Regions from separate parts of the Homo sapiens genome. Here region 1 is linked to region 2. Evidence: fine-mapped expression QTL. A gene starts in region 2. The other region holds a variant in brackets. All regions are shown on one strand. Distances are from middle to middle. Region 1 overlaps BAIAP2L1 (BAR/IMD domain containing adaptor protein 2 like 1). Region 2 holds the start of BRI3 (brain protein I3).

Evidence for each region.
Region 1: its variant is fine-mapped to the expression of BRI3 in monocytes (Fairfax 2014, PIP 0.95).

The regions. Positions count from the first base shown.
Region 1 is chr7:98,340,605-98,343,104 of GRCh38, forward strand. All of the region lies in intron 3 of BAIAP2L1 (BAR/IMD domain containing adaptor protein 2 like 1), which reads right to left. Among named protein-coding and RNA genes, the nearest start is that of BAIAP2L1, 59 kb to the right of the region's middle. The variant ATT/A (reference allele first, on the strand shown) is at 1,437.
Region 2 is chr7:98,280,189-98,283,206 of GRCh38, forward strand. BRI3 (brain protein I3) reads left to right here and starts at 1,498. Exons shown (of 3, transcript NM_015379.5): 1 at 1,498-1,749; 2 at 2,163-2,265. The coding sequence starts at 1,608. RefSeq lists an enhancer at 329-1,313 and silencers at 1,010-1,519, 1,650-1,989.

The DNA of each region.
Region 1 (2,500 bases), 60 kb after region 2:
AATTATAGTACATTGAGTATATATATACTCACTTCAAAGCTGAGAGAAGGAATGTTCTTCTTGTAACAACTTTTGTAAACAAGTACAATTTATAACACAGAACATCTTCCTAAACTTTAGGAATGTACACATACTTACACCAATGCGCCTACACGACACATGGACTTCCACAGTACATGCTCTTACAGGTTTTTTTTTTTTTTTGCAGGGGACAGAGTTTCACTCTGTCACTCAGGCTGGAGAGCAATGGTGTGACCTCAGCTCACCTCCGCCTCCTGGGTTCAAGCGATTCTCCTGCCTCAGCCTCCCGAGTAGCTGGGATTACAGGTGCCTGCCACCAGGCCCAGCTAATTGGTTTTTTTTTTTTTTTTGTCTCTTACAGGTTTTATAAATTATAACCCTACCTTTCTAATTATTCTAGCTGAGACCTTTCCTGTTCCAAAAGGGAGAAGAAAGAACATCCACCCAAAAATTGAGATGAGAAAAGCCACCTTCAAGGTCTAAAGGCATTTATCATGTGCTTGCTTCCAGGAAAAAAATTATTTTCCAAACCCCAAACTGAAAATACTCAAGAAAAAAAGCTGGAATAATGATCGCATTATAAATGCTTCTAAGTAAAACCAGCAAAATTGTGATTACAGCTGAGAAAAATCCAACAAAATACAGACTCATACTCACATGGTTAGTCAGCATGGACCATATGATGGTTTGCAATTTAACACAATCCTTTATTTTGCTGAACTCTAATTGGCAGGAAAATCTGACAGCCATAAAGTAAAGCCGTTAGAAAAGCACAGTCCAGGTGCAGTGGCTCATGTCTGTAATCTTAGCACTCTGGGAGGCTGAGGTGGGAGGACTGCTTCAGCCCAGGAGTTCGAGACCAGCCTGGGCAACACAGAAAGACCCCCATCTCTAAAAAAAATTTTTTATTTTTTAAAAAAGCACATCTTTTGGACATATAGAAAATTAAGTTGGCAGACTAGGTCATATACCTGGTAGGTAGCCTGGGGTCCAATGAACCAGCCACTGACCAGATACGCGACCTCAGCAAGTTACTGCCTTTGTACCTCAGTCTCCTCATCTATAAAACGGAAATAACAAGCATGGGCCTCACAGTGCTGTCATGATGATTATAGGAGTTAATATTACATTTATAATGTGCTTAGAACTGTGCCTGGCATATAGCAGGTACAGTGTTCAGTAAATAAAATCTCCTCTTGTTTCTTTGCTATTTTTGTGGAAGAATTTTAATCTCTTTAAAGTGAGTCTAACCTGTAACTAAAAGATAAGTGATTTTGGTCAATTATAACTGCTGTGGCTCAGCTCAGCTCTTTCCCTACTGTGGTATGAATTCTTTTATCCAGATCTTAGGAATATATTTGTAATATTGTTGTGAATTAGTAACATTTCAAAAATGTTTCAGAAATTTTTTTCTG[ATT/A]TTTTTTTTTTTTTTTTTTTTTTTATAAAGACAGAGTCTTGCTCTGTCATCCAGGCTGGAGTGCAGTGGTGTAATCATGGCTCACTGCAACCTCCGCCTCCCAGGTTCAAATGATTCTCATGCCTCAGCCTCCCAAGTAGCTGGGATTACAGGTGTACGCCACCATGCCCAGCTAACTTTTGTATTTTTAGTAGAGATGGGGTTTTGCCATGTTGGCCTAGCTGGTCTCAAACTCCTGGCCTCAGGTCCACCCACCTCGGCCTCCCAAAGTGCTAGGATTACAGGTGTGAGCCACTGCACCCAGGCTGAGCCACCGTTCCTGGCTTCTGCTCTAATTTTTAGACCAAAGACTGTCAGATTGGATTCTGAGTATCAGCAAGACAAATCTATAATGTAGTTTTTAAAAATTGCATGATCCATAAGCATTCTATCAATGATTAAAGGAAATCTATGATTTTCTAGGTTCCCTGATAGTGAGGAGATAAAATATTCTGTTTTGTGCCCAATTTCAGAAACTGGCCCAAACAATAAATGATTCAAAATGCAATGGCTGACTAAACTACAACAAAATAACATAGCCTAAATTTACATAATGGTGAGCTCTAAAAAGCTCAAAGCAAATTTATAAACTCCCCAAAGAAAGTCTTATTTCCTGAGAAGTCAATGAGAACATCCTTTATTTTTCTCTGCTTTAAGGATGAAAAAACTGACTCAAAGGTTCTTCTAAAGATTTTGGCAAAACATTTTCCCCTTACCATTTCTGTTTTCCCTTTCACCTTTTCAATATTTTCTGAGTTATAAAAATAAACCTTGCTTGATTTAGGAACAAAACTGGAAGTTTATGAAAATGTCAGATTCCTTTTTTAAATGGGCACTGCTGGGTAGCTGTGCTGCCTTGAACTGAACTGTGTACAGGTAATGAAGGATTAACCTTTATCACGTGTGATAAAGGATTTAACTTTATCACACGTGATAAAGTCACATGAGTGACTTTAGGTACACCCACTGACAATCTGTTGAGTGGCATGAATTTGACCCCATGACCTATTATTTAACAATTAA
Region 2 (3,018 bases):
TCACTGCACTCCAGCCTGGGCCACAGAGTGAGACTCTGTTAAAAAAAAAAAAAAAAAAGATATATATATATATATATATATATATATGTATGTGTGTGTATATATACATGTGAATGATGATCCCTTATTAAAAAATAAAAATAAGGCCGGGTGCAGGGGCTGACATCTGTAATTCCAGCACTTTGGGAGGCTGATGCAAAAGGATTGGTTGAGGCCAGCAGTTTGAGACTGGCCTGGGCACATAGCAAGATCCCATACAAAAATTTTTAAAAATTAGCTGGGCATGGTGGCGTGTGCCTGTGGTCCCCAGCTACTGAGGAGGCTGAGGTGGGAGGATGGCTTGGGCCCAGGAGGTCGAGACTGCATTGAGCAATGACTGTGTCACTCTACTGCAGCCTGGGTGACAGAGCAAGAGAGCCCCCCCAGCACCCCCTACAAATTTTTTTTTTAAAAATTAAAAAGGCGCGGTTCGAGAAGAGCTGTAGTCGTCCCAGAGCTACAGTGCAGGTGATATCAAAATGCAGGTGAGAAAACTGGAGACAGAATACAGTAACGGATACAGGTGCCCCTGAAAAGGTGCAGAGGCGCTAAGGACGCAAGCAATCCTGAACGTTCCAATCGTTCGTTTTAAAGTTGTCCTGGCCAACCCGTGAAGCCTTGTATGAGGAAATGTTTCAACGAGGGCGCCTGACGCAGTCCCCGAGGCCAGAAAACACCCAGGTTTAGATACGGGCTCTGACCCGCACCTGCCACAGCCAAATCCCTCCCCCTTCTGAGCCCGATCCCGTGTTGTCCTCCAGGGGTAAGCAAAACACCTGGCAGGGCTGCCTGAAGATTAGGGAAACTGAGGAGACGCGGCAGGTGCCCAGTATTTATAGTTTTGTCCCCAAACGGGGGAGTTATTTGTAAGCACTGGCTACTACCCCCGTCAATCACCTAATTGTCCAAAAAAAGGCAAACGGAGGGAATGCGCCGCAGCTGAGCACCGCGCAGGCCGCAGCTGAGGTGCACACCCGGGTGTGCCCTTTGTATTGCTGGAAGCGCTGGCGATCATAGGGGCAGAGGGCTGGCGTTGGGGCGGCCTGGGACCCACCCGGCCCCGCCCCCTCTCAGGCCCCGCCCTCCCCCTCCTCCACCGGTAGGGGGACCTCGGCCGGCCTGGGAGATCGGGGCGTAGGGGGAGGTGGGGGTGCATCCGCGAGCCCTAAAGGTCATGACCCTATGGGGCGTCTCTGGGTCGTCGTGGGGGATGGGCGGGGGGGGGGGTCTCCCCGCCACGGGAGGTCTAGAGAGCAGCGGCGGCGGGGCGGGGCGGAGTGCAGAGGCGCCGCCGGCGGGGCGGCTTCGGGAGGGCGCGGCCCCTTTAAGACGCCCCGCCGGCCCCGCCCCCGAGCCCCGCCTCCCGCCGCCCACGTGACCCCGGTCTTGTGACTGGGCCCGGGAGGGCGGGGGAAGCCCGCGGCTCGCGCCCGCCCCGCCCCGCCCCGCGTCTGCCTCAGAGGGGCCCGAGCCACCCGGTCCGCCGCGTCCCCGCCGCCGCCGCCGCGTCCCCCGCCGGGGCCGACCGAGCCGAGCCGGGCCGGAGCGGCGGGCGCGGCCGGGCCGCCATGGACCACAAGCCGCTGCTGCAGGAGCGGCCGCCCGCCTACAACCTGGAGGCCGGCCAGGGCGACTACGCGTGCGGCCCGCACGGCTACGGCGCCATCCCCGCCGCGCCCCCGCCGCCGCCCTACCCCTACCTCGTCACAGGTGGGCCCGTAACCAACTTTCCCCGCCGGCGGCTTCCGAGGTGGCAAGCCCGGTCGGGGGACGTGGGTCCGGAGGCGGGTGGGGCCCGCCCGGGGGTCCTTCCTGGAGCTGGAGGTCCCCGGGCTGGCTTCGGGACCCGGCGCCGCCGAGGGCCAGCCTCCCCCCCGGGGCTCTAGTCCTCGGGCCCGTCGTAACCCGGCGGGGCCGGATCCCTGCCCCAGATGAACTTTGTGTCACGAGGCGCTCGCTGTTGGCAGATTAGCGCCGAATCAGGCCCGCGGTGGCCGTCCCGAGGGTGGAAAAGACCGGGGGCTTTTTTAGCGGGGTGGAGGTTGAGGGGACAGGATGAGTAGTCCCCGTGGCGGTCCGATTTCTCCTCCCTGCACCCTAATGACCTGCTTTCCCGCCCACAGGGATACCCACCCACCATCCCAGGGTCTACAACATCCACAGCCGGACCGTCACCCGCTATCCTGCCAACTCTATCGTGGTCGTAGGAGGCTGTCCTGTCTGCAGGTGAGTGGGTCTGCAGCCTGGGGACTGGCCCTGGAAGCTCTGAGGACCCCCGCCCTAACCCCCAGGACCTCACAGCTCTGCTTGTGGGAGTGGGTCCGGCTTGACTTGGATCTTGACCAGAGCCCTTTATGGGAGGGACAGACAGGCTGCCCGAATGCGGTGTGGGAGAGTGCGGGTCCGCTCACCCTTGGCTCTGAACACATTTTGTGGGGGCAAAAGGGTGGATTCCTTTTCCTAGATCTTGGGGCATTGCACCCCAAGTGATTGGGATGTAGAAATGGTAACAACGGGACTCGTGGTCCTTTCGTCTTTGTTCTGGGACTTGCAAGGAATCAGGTGTCTGCTTTTTCCTTCACTTTCCGCAAGTTTACTCTGCAGTTGATCGTCGAAGGTGGTGGAAGGTTTCATTTTCCCGGAAGGGGCATTTGGAAGTAAGTGCACCAGCAGGACAGACCTCAGTGGGAGAAGCGACGGCCGTAAGAGCTGCTTTATCCAAAGTTGGCTTGAAACGCTCTTCCACGAGCTGGACCAGGATGGAAACCCCGTGTTTCTTTGAGGCAGGAGTTATTTTTTTCATATCCTCGCATTGGACCTGCACACGCTTTTTGGTTTTTATAGGGCCCCGAGGTGCAGCTAGAGGCTTGTTTTGTGGAGGTTTTGAGGATTCACATTTAAATAAGGATTAATTAAATATAAACCCTTGGCAGCTGGGGGTGTTCAGATTGCTTAGAAAGTAGGGGCAGAGTTGGCCGG